2 separate regions of the Homo sapiens genome follow, and region 1 is linked to region 2. Evidence: fine-mapped QTL for protein levels in blood plasma. A gene starts in region 2. The other region holds a variant in brackets. All regions are shown on one strand. Distances are from middle to middle.

What was found. A credible set is the group of variants that fine-mapping cannot tell apart. PIP is the posterior inclusion probability: the model's chance that the variant is causal. Protein levels are from the aptamer-based SomaScan assay of Sun 2018.
Region 1: its variant is the best candidate, but not a certain one, in a credible set for the plasma level of the SPINK2 protein (Sun 2018, PIP 0.59).

What each region holds. Positions count from the first base shown.
Region 1 is chr4:56,787,616-56,796,142 of GRCh38, forward strand. LOC105377668 (a long non-coding RNA gene) reads left to right here and starts at 7,307. Exons shown (of 3, transcript XR_941082.2): 1 at 7,307-7,345. It also overlaps the pseudogene RN7SL492P. The variant C/T (reference allele first, on the strand shown) is at 4,635.
Region 2 is chr4:56,820,785-56,827,746 of GRCh38, forward strand. It overlaps SPINK2 (serine peptidase inhibitor Kazal type 2), which reads right to left and starts at 917. Exons shown (of 4, transcript NM_001271718.2): 1 at 674-917. The coding sequence starts at 878. RefSeq lists a silencer at 759-1,018.

The sequences.
Region 1 (8,527 bases), 32 kb before region 2:
GCTTTGGCTATCTGAGGGAAGCCAGCTGCCCTGTAGGAAGACGACTGCCCTAAGCCCAGCGTGCTGTGAAATAGCCCTCATTAAGTTTTACAGTGGTTTGTTATGAACACTAGATAACGAAAACAAAGAGCCACCCCACTGCGTTATATTTAGGGCCTGTATTTCCACCTTAGGGGAACAGCAGCTTAGGGGAGAAGGTAGTGTTTCTTCTCACAGGGAAAGAGAGTGGTTGTTTAACAGACGTCTTCCATGCATAAGAGGATGCATAACACTGCAAAGCATCATCAAATGCTGACTTCCCCTCACTGCATTTCTTTCCTCTGGCTCCTTTTCTCCCTCCACCCACCCACCCACAGCGTTTTTTTTAGACAGGGTCTCACTCTGGTTGCCCAGGCTGGAGTGCAATGGCGTGATCTCAGCTCACTGCAGCCTCAGCCTCCTGGGCTCGGTGATTCTCCCAACTGAGCCTTCTGAGTAACTGGGAATACAGGTGCACTCTATCAAGCCCGGCTAATTTTTTTGTATTTTTAGTAGAGAAAGGATTTCGTCATGTTGCTCAGGCTAGTCTCAAACTCCTGGACTCCAGCAGTCTGCCCACGATCAGCCTCCCCAAGTGCTGGGATTATAGGTATGAGCTACCACGCCCGACCTCCTCCCCCTTTTAATGAGCTGATCCCCCCGCACCCCGGATTTGCCTTCTGCTTCTTCCCACTCCTGTCATTTTGCCTGTGCTGTGCCATCCACCTGCAACACTCCTCCTTTATCAAAATCACTCCAGTTTTTCTGAACCCTTGTAAGGTATAACTTTTTTTTTTTTTTTTTTTTTTTTTGAGACAGGGTCTCACTGTGTTGCACAGCCTGGTCTTGAATTTCTGGGCTCAAGTGATCTTCCTGCCTGTGCCTCCCAAAGTGCTGGGGTTGCAGATACGAGCCACCGCATCTGGCCTAAGTATAACTGTTTTAATAGTTTTCCATGAATACCTCAGCCCCAGCAAAAGCTGTTCCTTTCCTCTGAAATCCATCCCCAAAGCAATTCTAAGTGGAAAATTGATTTGGCCATTAGTCAATTTGTAACATCATTTCTCTTATTGTCTTGAACTAATAAGCAAATGTACCTTGATTTAACTTTACAGTAGTTTGTTTCTTGTTCACTGAATCAGATCGTAGTTCATTAAGAACAAGAATATTGGGCCAGATGCAGTGGCTCACGCCTGTAACCGCAACACTTTGGGAGGCCAAAGTGGGTGGATCACGGGGTCAAGAGATCGAGACCATGCTGGCCAACATGGTGAAACACTGTCTCTACTAAAAATTCAAAAATTAGCTGGGCATGGTGGCGCACACCTGCTGTCCTAGCTACTTGGGAGGCTGAGGCAGGAGAATCACTTGAACTCGGGAGGCGAAGTTTGCAGTAAGCCGAGATTGCACCGCTGCACTCCAGCCTGGTGACAGAGTGAGATTCTGTCTCAACAAACAAACAAACAAAACAAAACAAAACAAACAGGAATATTGGCTGGGTGTGGTGGCTTAGGCCTGTAATCCTAGCACTTTAGGAGGCAGAGGTGGGGGGATCACTTGAGGTCAGGAGTTTCAGACCAACCTGGCCAACATGGTGAAACCCCGTCTCTACTAAAACTGCAAAAATTAGCTGGGTATGGTGGCGCCTGCCTGTAGTCCCAGCTACTCAGGAGGCTGAGGCAGGAGAATTGCTTGAACCCAGGAGCCAGGGGTTGCAGTGAGCAGAGATCATGCCATTGCAGTACAGCCTGGGGGACAGCAGCGAAACTCTGTCTCAAAAAAAAAAAGAACAGGAATATGTGTTGTCATCCACTCATTAGAAAGTTAGTAAATATCTATTGATTTCAACTGTATTTACCAGTTCTATCGAGAACAGGCAGCCAAATAGTTTTATTTTTAAAGCTCTCATATCCTATCAAAATGATTGCAACAATTTTAAACTTTTGCCTAAGACTAGGGGATTTCTGGGAATGAGAAACTTCAGTTTTAAAACTGAAAAATTAGCCGAGTGTGGTGGTGCGCACTTGTAGTCCCAGCTACTCTGCAGGCTGAGGCAGGAGAATCACTTGAACCAACGAGGCAGAGGTTGCAGTGACCTGAGATTGCGCCTTTGCACTCCAGCCTGGGTGACAGAGCAAGACTCTGTCTCAAAAATAAATGAATAAATAAAATAAATAAGACTGAGGACATCCCATGCAAACCAGGACAAGTTGGCTACCCTACTTATAAGTTTATTGCCCCATCTAATTCACATGGTACCCCACCCAGTGTTTCAAACAGCAGAACAGTTGCCCAATCCTATTTTCACATAAACCATTCTCGTAAGTTCTATTAGTTCAAACAGGTGGTCTCCTAAACAAGTTTCACTGTCATTTAAATTTGATAGGCTTTTGAAAATCATTTGTGATAATTATACATTACCATAATGGAGGTTGTTTTCATAGTAGAAGCTATAAAAAGGAAGGATAAAAACTTGCTGGATTTTCTCCAGTTTGGGTGTTGGAGGGAAGGTGTATGTGGCAAGCACATGTCATTCAGCCCCAGATGGTCTTAGTATATTCCATCCTGCTGCAGAGGAAGTTCAGGGCTTCACTAAGACCTTAGTTAGACCTTTTGCTACATTGTATTGAAACATTTACCTGTCACTCTTTACCTCCCAGTACTGTGAGCTGCTTTTTTTTTTTTTTTTTTAGACGGTGTCACCAGGCTGGAGTACAGTGGTGCGATCTCTGCTCACTGCAATCTCCGCCTCCCGGGTTCAAGTGATTCCCCTGCCTCAGCCTCCACAATAGCTGGGACTACAGGCATGCGCCACCATGCCCAGCTAGTTTTTTTGTGTTTTAGTAGAGATGGGGTTTCACCATGTTGTCCAGGATGGGCTCGATCTCCTGACCTCGTGATCTGCCCGTCTTGGCCTCCCAAAGTGCTGGGATTACAGGTGTGAGCCACCCCGCCCGGCCTACTGTGAGCTTCTTAAAGCCAAGGGCTGGTATATTTATATGACAACATTTATAAAACACATTCAGTGTGCCAGATAATGTTCTTTGCTTTTTACAAATTTTGTGTGTGTGTTTTTTTAAGAAACATGTTGTAATAACATGTTCTCAAAGTTTGCTTCCAAAGATGTTTCTCTGCCAAACTCTTATATTCACTAACTGAAAACAGCTTTTGATGCATCTTTAAGAAATCATGCTTACATTTGCCTTTTTTTGGTATAAATTTATGGGGTACAAATGTAATTTTGTTTCATGCATAGATTGTTTGGTGGTGAAGTCAGGGCTTTTAGAGTATCTATCACCCAAATAACATACATTGTACCCATTAAGTGATTTCTCATTATCCATGCCCCTCCCACTCCCTCCCTCTTCTGAGTCTCCATCGTCTATCACTCTGCACTTTAATCCATGTGTCCACATTATTTAGCTCCTACTAGTAAGTGAGAACATGCAGTATTTGTCTGTTTCTGAGCTGTTTCACCTAATGGCCTCCAGTTCCAACCATGTTGTTGCAAAAGACATGATTTCATTCTTTTTGAGGCTGAATGGTATCCCAATGTGTATGTATACATATATATATCACATTTTCTTTATCCAACTATCCATTGATGGACAGTTAGGTTGATTCCATATCTTTGCTATTGTGAATAGCGGTGTGATAAACACATGAGAGTAGATGTCTTTTTGCTGTAATGATTTCTTTTCCTTTATTTTTAGTTTTTTGAGAAATCCCCATACTATTTTTCGTAGAGAACACACTAATTTACATTACCACCAACAGTGTATTAGAGTTCCCTTTTCTCCACATCCTCACCAACATGTTATTTTTTGTCTTTTTAATAATGGCCATTCTGACTAATATAAGATGATCTGTCACTGCGGTTTTAATTTGCATTTCTCTGATGATTAGTGATGTTGAGCATTTTCTCATATGTCTGTTGGTCATTTGTATGTCTCCTTTTGAAAAATATCTGGGAGGCTGAGGTGGGCAGATTGCCTGAGCTCAGGAGTTCGAGACCACCCTGGGCAACATGTTGAAACTCCGTCTTTACTAAAATACAAAAATTTATCTGGGTATGGTGGTGTATGCCTGTAGTCCCAGCTACTCAGGAGGCTGAGGTGGGAGAATTGCTTGAGCCCAGTAGGTGGAGGTTGCAGTGAGCCAAGATCGTGCCACTGCACTCCAGCTTGGGCAACAGAGTGAGACTCTCTCTCTCAAAAAAAAAAACAAAAAAACTGTCTATTCGTGTATTTTGTCCACCTTTTAATTTTTATTAGAGACAGAGCCTTGCTCTGTCACCCAGGCTAGAATGCAGTTGCATGATTATGGTTCATTGTAACCTTGAACTCCTGCTTTGCCCACTTTTGTTTTGTTTTTTGTTGTTGTTTGTGATGGAGTTTCACTCTGTTGCCAGGCTGGAGTGCAATGGTGCGAACTCAGCTCACTGCATCCTCCGCTTACCAGGTTCAAGCAATTCTCCTGCCTCAGCCTCCAGAGTAGCTGGGACTACAGGCTTATGCCACCACACCTGGCTAATTTTGTATTTTTAGTAGAGACAGGGTTTCTCCATGTTGGTCAGACTGGTTTCGAACTCCCGACCTCAGGTGATCCGCCCACCT[C/T]GGCCTCCCAAAGTGCTGGGATTACAGGCCTGAGCCACCGCACCCGGACTTTGCCCACTTTTTCAGTGGGGTTATATGTTTTTCATTGTCGAGTTGTTTGAGTTCCTTGTAGATTCTGGCTATTAGTCCCCTGTCGGATGCATAGTTTGCAAAATTTTTTTCCCATCTGGCAGGTTGTCTGTTTACTCTGTTGATTATTTGATTATTTCTTTTGTTGTGCAGAAGCTTTTTAGTTTAATTAAGTCCCATTTGCCTATTTTAGTTTTGTGGCCTGTATGTTTGAGGTCTTAGTCATAAAATTTTTGCCTAGACCAACGTCCAGAAGAGTTTTACCTAGGTTTTCTTTTAGTATTTTTATAGTTTCAGGTACATGTAAGTCTTGTAATTCATCTTGAATTCATTTTTGTATATGGTGAGAAATAGGGGTCCAGTTTCATTCTTCTGCATACGGCAATCCAATTTTCCCAGCACCATTTATTGAAAAGGATGTCCTTTCCTCAATGTACGTTCTTGTCAATTTTGTTAAATATCATTTGGCTGTGCTTTCTTACAAATGTTGACTCATTTAATTCTCATATGACCTTTATCAGAAAGGTGCAATTATTATTCCCATTTTACAGATGAGGAAACTGAGGCACAACTTGACAGTGGTTAACCAACTGTCAAGCTAGTAAATGGTAGAGTTGGAATTTGAATTCAGGCAATTTGGCTCCAGAATGTGTTTTTTTTCTTCTTCTTCTTTTCAATGTTTAAAAATTTTCAATAGAGGGCCGGGTGCAGTGGCTTAGACCTGTAATCCTAGCACTTTGGGAGGCTAAGCTGGGCAGATTACCAGAGGTCGGGAGTTCAGGATGAGTCTGGCCAACACGGTGAAACCCTGTCTCTACTAAAATACAAAAAAAATAATTAGCCAGGCATGATGGCGGTGCCTGTAATCCCAGCTACTTGGAGGCTGAGATGGGAGAATTGCTTGAACCGGGGAAACAGTGACTGCAGTGAGCCGAGATCACACCACTGCACTCCAGCCTGGGCAGCTGAGCAAGACTCCATCTCAAAAAAAAAAAAAAAGTCAATCGAGATGGGGTCTCACTATGTTGCCCAGGCTTGTCTCGAACTCCTGGCCTCCAGTGGTCCTCCCCACACAGCCTCCCAAAATGTTGATATTACAGGCATGAGACACCAAGCCCGACCCCCAGAATGTGTTTTAATCACTACATAATCCTGCCTAGTCCTTATTTATTGTACCACAGCACCTAGCTCCATCTCTGGCATGAAGTAGATGTTCAACAGAATATTTATTAAAGAATAAACAAGTGGCTGGGCATGGTGGCTAATGCCTGTAATCTCAGCACTTTGGGAGGCCAAGGCGGGTGGATCACCTGAGGTTGGGAGTTCGAGACCAGCCTGACCAACATGGAGAAACCCCATCTCTACTAAAAATACAAAATTAGTCAGGCGTGTCAGCGCACATCTGTAATCCCAGCTATTCGGCAGGCTGAGACAGGAGAATCACTTGAACTCAGGAGGCAGAGGTTGCGGTGAGCTGAGATAGTGCCATTGCACTCCATCTTGGGCAATAAAAGCGAAACTCCATCTCAAAAAAAAAAAAAAAAAAGAATAAACAAGTAAATGATTCCCTTTTGTACAACAATCACATTCCAGGATAGGATATTCTTGCGGAGTTCTAATTTAAAACATTCTGCCATGTTTTCAAAACATGTTAAATTAGGCATGAGATGATACATCTGGATTTAGGGATCAGAAACAGTGGCACAGTTTCCATAAGATTATTAATTCTATTTATTCTGATTCTATGTTCAACACATCATCTTCAAATTGATAATTCTTAGTCTGCCATCTTAATACCAGGAATGAGGTGCCCTGGGATAATGGTTGTCAAATGCCAAGCACTGGAAAAATATCAAGTGTTGACCAGGTGTGGTGTCTCATGCCTGTAATCCCAGCACTTTGGGAGGCTGAGGTGAGAGGATCACCTGAGACCAGGAGTTCATGGCCAGCCTGAGCAACATAACAAGGCCCCATCTCTAGAAATATATTTTTTTATTTTTTATTTGAAAAGTATAGAACGTTTTGTTTTAGAGATGAGGTCTTGCTATATTGCCCAGGCTGGAGTGCAGTGGCTGTTCACAGGCACAATCCCACTACTAATCAGCACAGGAGTTTTGACCTGCTCCATTTTCGACCTGGGCTAGTTCACCCCAGGTGAACCTGGTGGTCTCCTGCTCCCAGGAGGTCACCATATTGATGTCAAACTTAGTGTGGACGCCTGATCGACATAGCACAGTACAGCCCAGAACTCCTGGGCTCCAGTGATCCTCCTAGCTCAGCCTCCCGAGTAGCTGGGACTACAGGCATGCGCCACTGCTCCTGGCCTCTAGAAAAAATGGTGTGGCAGTGTGAGCCTATAGTTCCAGCTACATGGGAGGACAGCTTGAGCTCCGGAGTTCAAGGCTGCTGTGAGCTATGATTGTGCCACTGCCCTCCAGCCTGGGCAACAAAATGATACATTGTCTCAAAAAAAAAAAAAAAAAGAGAGAGAGAGGAAGAAGAGGAAATTTGGACACAGAGAGGTACAGAGGGAAGACCATGTGCAGACTCAGGGAGAAGATGGCCATCTTCAGAGCCAAGACAGGCCTTAGAAGAAACCAGCCCCGGAACACTTTGATCTTGGATGTCTAGACTCCAGAACTGTGAGAAAATTAATTTCTGTTGTTTAAGCCATCCAGTCCGTGGTACTTTGTTACAACAGCCCTAGCAAACTACCCCAAGGCCCTAGCCAGGAATGTACCTTGTTAGGATACTATTTTATGGTAGGGGCTGCTTATCTTGTATTATAATCTGGTCTACAGAATCTTTCAGCTAAGGATTCCATGGTCCAGAAAACTTTCTATGCTAGTGGTTCTTATGTATTCCCTGACCAGCAGCATCAGCAGCTCCAAGGAACTCATTAAAAATACAAATTTTCAAGCCCATTCTATAACTATGAAATCAGAAACTGGGAGTGGAGCTTAGCAATGTGTGTGCCCTCCAGATGATTCGGCTGCAAGCTAGAGTTCAAAAGTCACTGATCGGCTGGGAGAGGTGGCTCATGCCTGTAATCCCAGCACTTTGGGAGGCCAAGGCAGGCAGATCACTTGAGGTCAGGAGTTAAAGACCAGCCCGGCCAACATGGTGAAACCCCATCTCTACTGAAAAAAAAAATACAAAAATTAGCCGGGCGTGGTGGCAGACGCCTGTAGTCCCAGCTACTCGGTAGGCTGAGGCAAGAGAATCGCTTGAACCTGGAAGGCAGAGGTTGCAGTGAGGTGAGATCGTGCCACTGCACTCCAGCCTGGGTGACAGAGTGAGACTCCATCTCAAAAAAAGAAAAGAAAAGAAAAGAAAAGAAAAGAAAGCTACTGTTATACAATAATAACTAAATTTGGTTTGTTTTTCAACTCAACTTTATTAAAAGAGAAAGAAAAAGAGATGACAGGTACATCCCAAGTTCCAAGAATCCCCATGAGGTTAAAGGGGCATTTGTTTCATGTATAATCAATCAGAGGCTGCCCCTCCTCTACTAATGGTGCCTTGGTGCCCTGTCTGCTCTAGCTGTGCCTTCAAGACTAATTCTGGCACACCTTGCCAGAGTGCTCCCTGAATGCCTTTTTCTCCTTAAAGAAGCCTGCAGGGAAAGGAGCTTTGGGCCCTGCTCCACGCTTCTGGGGAACCCCAGGTGTTCTCATGAGCACACCCAGGCCAAGGCTGGACCCTTTTTCAAGGGGCCAACCACTGCCGCCTCCCCATTTTCCCCTACCGACCATTCTGTACAGGCGCTGCTGCCTATTACAATGCCTTCTTTCAGGCTGGGGGCTCTCAGCCGTCTCTCTCTC
Region 2 (6,962 bases):
TAAAATCCAGTTTGGGATTTATCCAGGCCACATCTTCTATTTTCCCCTCTAATGCCTACCTTCTTTAAACTGTCCCCATCCCACTTCCCCCAGAAAGGATATTCAGTTTTTTATGGCACCTCTCCCCAAAAGCACATAGAAATAACATTTGGTTCTGTTCCCATTAGGGTTGGTTGAGAAAGGACTTTGAAGCTATGGAATAAAAGTCGCGCTAGCGCACTGCAGCTTCAATTCCTGGTCTCAAGCGAGCCTCCCGCCTCAACCTCCGGAGTAACTGGGACTACCGGCCCAAGCCACTACACCTGGCCAAGGAAGTAACCCTTAATTAATAGTTCATGATGTTATTTTCCTTTACAACTCGGGGTAACAAATACAAAATTTAATATAAGATGTGAGCATTTTAACTCCATTTTAAGAGAGGTGTCCAGTGTGGTTGGACTAAAGCCCCTTTCTCGTAAGCATCCACAATTCCTCATTCCTGCACATCTCCTCCCTTGGGACCATACATAAAAACTCAACTCCTCATCTTGGGCACCTGAAAATCTACTTTAACAGAGAAAGCGCTCTAGATGGCAGGTGTCCTTAGAGCTGGGAGCGAAGCCCAAGCAAGAACTAAAGAGGGTGGCTGACTCCACAAAGCCACCCCCACAACCCCCAGTTCGCGTTCCTCCACCTGGCAGGTCCTCTGGGGAACCGCCAGTAACGGGCGCGCGGGTACCGTCGCCGAGGCCGCCCGGAGCAGGGCAGGGTCCGCCGCCGGTCTGACTCCCAAACCCGCTTTTCTCCGGAGGTCCCCGCTCGCCAGGACCGCTCCGAGCGCTACCTGCGAAGGTAACTGCCAGGAGCAGCAGCGCCAAGCGCAGCACCGACAGCGCCATCCTCCTCCCGCGCCGGCTGTCTTGCCCCTGCGGTCTGTTACCTGCGCCACTCGCAGGGAGCGCTCGTGCGACGGGGCGCGGGGAGGGCGGGGGAAGGGGCGGGGCGAGAATGGGAGGAAAAGCAGCGGTAGGTGGCGAGGGAAGAGGGGCGGCGGGAAGAGGAGCGGCGGGAAGAGGAGCCGTGAAGGGTCGGGGGAGAACCGGAAAGGGCTGGGAAGGAGAAAGGTAGAAGGACGGGGGAGGGGGCCATGGGGAAGGAGGGGCGAGGGAGATAGAGGAAGGGGCAGTTGTTCCCCAACACCTTCCCCTCCCCCCAAGGAGACGAAGGGGAAGACCTCTCCCTCCGACATACAAGAACCTGTGACAGTCCTAGGGGGACCCTTGTGGAGCTCTTGGGAGCTCTGTCAATCAACACCTATTTCTTAAGCATGTACTAAGTCCCAGATAGTGTTTCGTTGCTGAAGACACAGCCCTGACCTCGACAAAGGAGGTCCTTGCTCTCAGGAAGCGTTCTGCCTTTCCCTCTTTTAATATATTTTTTAACTATTTGAGTTGACACATAATGATTGTACATATTTATGGGGGTACATAGTGATATTTGGATACATACAATGTGTAGTGATCAAAATAGGATAATTAGCATATTCATCACCTCAAACATTTATCATTACTTTGTGTTGAGAACATTCAAAATCCTCTCATCTAGCTACTTGAAAATACATAATAAATTATTATTATTATTTAAATTTCAGACAGGGTCTCGCTCTTTTACCCAGGCTGGAGTGCAGTGGCACGATCTCAGCTCACTGCAACCTCCACCTCCCAGGTTCCAGTGATCCTCCCACCTCAGCCTCCCTCCCAAGTAGCTGGGACCACAGATATATGCCACCATGCCAAGCTAATTTTTGCATTTTTTGTAGAGAGGGGTTCTCACCATGTTGCCCAGGCTACTCTCAAACTCCTGGGCTCAAGCAATCCGCCCACCTTGGCCTCCCAAAGTGCTGGGATTACAGGCTTGAGCCACCGTGCTCGACCTTTATAATATATTATTGTTAATTGTCGGCACCCTACAATGCTATGAAACACTAGCACTTATCCTTTCTACCTAGCTGTAATTTTGTATACTTTAACCAACCTCTCCCTATCCCCCTATCCTTCCCAGCCTCTAGTAACTACTGTTCTACTCATTACTTCTGTGAGAAATAATTTTTGCCAAAGAGGCTGAGCAAGTTAGTGCATTAAGGCCAGGCGTGGTGGCTCACGCCTCTAATCCCAGCACTTTGGGAGGCTGAGCCTGGTGGATCACTTGAGCTCAAGAGTTTGAGAGGAGCCTGGGCAACAGGGCAAAACCCCGTCTCTAAAAAAAGTACAAAAATTAGCCAGGTGTGGCCATTGAGCTGAGATTGAGCTACTGCGCTCCAGCCTCAGTGGCAAAATGAGACCATGTCAAAAAAATTTGGCCAGGCACGGTGGTTCATGCCCGTAATCCCAGCACTTTGCGAGGCTGAGGCAAGTAGATCACTTGAGGCCAGGAGTTTGAGACCAGCCTGGCCAACATGGCAAGACCCCATCTCTACTAAAAATACAAAAATTAGCTGTGCATGGTGGTGCGCACCTGTAGTCCCAGCTACCTGGGAGGCTGAGGCATGAGAATTGCTTAAACCCAAGAGGCAGAGGTTGCAGTGAGCCGAGATGGTGCCACTGCACTCCAGCCTGGGCGACAGAGTAAGACTCTGTCAAAAAAAAAAAAAAGTGCATTAGCAGATCCACTTTTTTTTTTTTCTGCTTCTTATGCCTGTGTGTCAAATGATTCTGTGACATGTTGCCTTATCAGTAAGGGTCCAGTCTGGAAAACACAAGGTTTACTAGGTATTTCACCAGAGATAATTTAGTATAAGGAATTGGCTAATCCAGTAGGGATAACTGAAAAAAGCAGAAAGGGAAAACGAGGTAACACAGAGATAAAGCCTTTAGGAAGTAGGCATCATGCCTCGATCTAGGGGAACAAACGGATTAGGTTGGGATTCTCAGAACTAGAAATTTGGAGGAGAGGTCCTGGAAAGCTGGGACTCAGACCCATGGGAAGGGGGTGTTGCTTGGATATGCAGGTGGCTCTAAGAGTGTGTGGAAAAGCTGAAGACTGGAGCCAGGTGCAGTGGCTCACACCTGTAATCCCAGCACTTTGGGAGGTTGAGGTGGGTGGGTCACTTGAGGTCGGGAGTTCGAGACCAGCCTGGCCAACATGGTGAAACCTTGTCTCTACTAAAAAATATAAAACTTAGCTGGACATGGTGCCATACTCCTGTAATCCCAGGTTCATGAGAATCTCTTGAACCTAGGAGGTGGAGGTTGTGGTGAGCGAAGCACACCACTGCACTCCAGCCTGGGCAACAGAGTGAAACTCTGTCTCAAAAAAAAAAAAAAAAATGCTGGAGACTGGAGCCAGCTGATTCTATCAGAGTGATGAAGAGTCATTGCTGTGGCACTGCTGAAAGAAACAGCCAGCAGGCAGGAGCCAGTCCCTTCTCCCTCCTCCTGCCTTCCGGTGTCCCCCTGACAGACCCTATGGGCATAACCTTCTGGAAGCCAGCTGAAAAAGCAGAAATGAGGTCTGCTGAGACCTGGCACCACATAGCAGAGTGTAGAAGGGGGTTGTAGAGCTGATGGAGAATCATCTTATGACTGGCATGTTCCCATGCCCACCCTTGACCTTAGCAACCTCAAAGGCTGGAACAAGAAGACACTGTGCAGTTTTTAACTCCACTTGGCACCACACATGGCTGAGTTCTGGCTGGAATCCTGTCTGAGGCCAAGGGGTAAATTTGAAATGAGTGTTAGTACTTCTCTAAGTCACATCACATTCAGTTCTTTGAATAACAGTCATGAAATGGTCATGGGTCATTTTGCTGAAGATTCTTATCAAGGATTGATAAAATATAATTTATATATAAAGCTTTTCTCAACTGTGCTGGATGTCTGTTACCAAATGACATGTGCACTTGCTTACAAACACCTTTGATGCTCTGGGAACACAAATCTGACCCAGACTCAGGGGCAATGCTCAGAGGTGTGTGAGTAGGAATTTCAGCTTCAAAAGAAAAGCCATTTACCCCTCAAGATAGATTTTTTATAAATTTATGTGTGTGGATACAGCTGCCTTTAGGTTATTTTGTTTCAAAGAGTTGACACTGACTGGCAGGGTGGCTCATGCCTGTAATCCCAGCACTTTGGGAGGCAGAGGCGGGCAGATTGTTTGAGCCCAGGAGTTGGAGACCAACCTGGGCAACATGACAAAACCCTGTCTCTAAAAAAATACAAAAATTAGCCTGGTGTGGTGGCGCGCACCTGTAGTCCCAGCTACTTAGGAGGCTGAGGTGGGAGGATCACCTGAGCCTGGGAGGTGGAGGCTGCAGTGAGCCATGATCACACCACTGCATTTCAGCCTGGGTGACAGAGCGAGACTCCGTCTCAAAAAAAAAAAAAAAATGTTGATAATTATACCTTAGAAATATTTTCTATCATGGTGCTTTTCACATGTTGTCTCAGCATTTGTGAGCCAAGAACAAGGGTCAAAAAACATTTTCTGTAAAGGGCCAGATAGTAAATACCATTGACTTCTTGTCACAACTAAACTCTGCCATTGCAGTGCAAAAGGAGACATAGACTATAACTCAATGAATGGGCATAACTGTATTCTTTTTTTTTTTTTTTTTGAGAGAAGATCTTGCTGTGTCACCCAGGCTGGAGTACAGTGGCGCAATCTCAGCTCACTGCAGCCTCAACCTCCTGGGCTCAAGCGATCCTCCCACCTCAGCCCCACAAGTAGCTAGGAATACAAGCATCCGCCACCACACCCAGCTAATATTCTTGTATTTTTTGTAGAGGTAGGTGATATGGTTTGGCTGTGTCCCCACTTAAATCTCAACTTGAATTCTATCTCCCGGATTTCCCAAGTGTTGCGGGAGGGACCCAGGGGGATAATTGAATCATGGGGGCCAGTCTTTCCCATGCCATTCTCATGATAGTGAATAAGTCCAGGAGATCTGATGGGTTTATCAGGAGTTTCCATTTTTGCTTCCTCCTCATTTTTTCTCTTGCTCCTGCCATGTAAGAAGGGCCTTTCACCTCCCACCATGATTGTGAGGCCTCCCCAGCCATGTGGAACTGTAAGTCCAATTAAACCCTTTTTTCTTCCCAGTCTCATGTATGTCTTTATCAGCAGCATGAAAATGGACTAATACAGTAAATTGGTACCAGGAGAGTGGGGCGTTGCTGAAAAGATACCAAAAATGTGGAAGTGAATTTGGAACTGGGTAACAGGCAGAAGTTGGAACAGTTTGGAGGGCTCAGAAGAAGACAGGAAAATGTGGGAAAGTTTGGAACTTCCTAGAGACTTGCTGAATGGCTTTGCCCAAAATGCTGATAGTGATAAGGAGAATAAGGTCCAGGCTGAGGTGGTCTAAGATGGAGATGAGGAACTTGTTGGGAACTAGAGTAAAGGTGACTCTTGTTATGTTTTAGCAAAGAGACTGGTGGCATTTTGCCCCTGCCCTAGAGATTTGTGGAACTTTGAACCTGAGAAAGATGATTTAGGATATCTGGCTGAAGAAATTTCTAAGCAGCAAAGCATTCAAGGGGTGACTTGGGTACTGTTAAAGGTGTTCAGTTTTATAAGGGAAGCAGAGCATAAAAGTTTGGAAAATTTGTAGCCTGATTATGTGATAGAAAAGAAAAGCCCGGACAGGCACAGTGGCTCACACTTGTAATCCCAGCACTTCGGGAGGCTGAGGTGGGCTGATAACCTGAGGTCAGGAGTTTGAGATCAGCCTGGCCAACATGGTGAAACCCTGTCTCTACTAAAAGTACAAAAATTAGCCAAACGTGGCGGTGGGCACCTGTAATCCCATCTACTCCGGAGGCTGAGGCAGGAGAATCGCTTGAAGCCGGGAGGCAGAGGTTGTGGTGAGCAGAGATGATGGCGCCATTGCACTCCAGCCTGGGCGGCAAGAGTGAAAGAAACTCTGTCTCAAAAAAAAAAAAAAGAAAGAAAGAAAAGCTGGGCGTGGTGGCTCATGCCTGTAATCCCAGCACTTTAGGAGGCCAAGGCGGGCGGATCACCTGAGGTCAGGAGTTCGAGACCAGCCTCAACATGGAGAAACCCCGTCTCTACTAAAAATACAAAATTATCCAGGCATGATGGTGCATGCCTGTAATCCCAGCTACTTGGGAGGCTGAGGCAGGAGAATTGCTTGAACTTGGGAGGCGGAGGTTGCAGTGAGCCGAGATCACACCATTGTACTCCAGCCTGGGCAACAAGAGGGAAACTCCGTCTCAAAAAAAAAAAGAAAAAAAAAAGGGCCAGGTGCAGTGGCTCACGCCTGTAATCCCAACACTTTGGGAGGCCAAGTTGGGTGGATCACATGAGGTCAGGAGTTTGAGACCAGCCGGACCAAGATGGTGAAACCCTGTCTACTAAAAATACAAAATTAGCCAGGTGTGGTGGTGCATACCTGTAATCCCAGCTTACTCAGGAGGCTGAGGCAGTAGAATCGCTTGAACCCGGGAAGCAGGGGTCGCAGTAAACCGAGATCACTCCATTGCACTCTAGCCTGGGCAAGAAGAGCAAGACTCTGTCTCAAAAAAAAAAAAAAAAAAAAAAAAGAAAGAAAGAAAGAAAGAAAAAGAGAAACCCATTTTCTGGGGGGAAATTCAAGCCGGCTGCTGAAATTTGTATGAGTAGCAAGGACCCTAATGTTAATCCCCAAGACCATGGGGAAAATGTCTCCAGGACATGTCAGAGACTTTCACTGCAGCTCCTCTCATTACAGGACTGGAGGCCCAGGAGGAAAAAGTGGTTTTGTGGGTGGGGCCCAGGGTCCCTGTGCTGTGTGCATCCTAGGGACTTGGTGCCCTGTGTCCTAGCTGCTCCAGCCATGGGTGAAAAGGGCCAACATACAGCTCAGGCTGTGGCTTTAGAGGGTGGAAGCCACAAGTCTTGGTAGCTTCCATATGGTGTTGAGCCTGCAGGTGCACAGAAGTCAGGAATTGAGGCTTGGGAACCTCCGCCTAGATTTCAGAAGATGA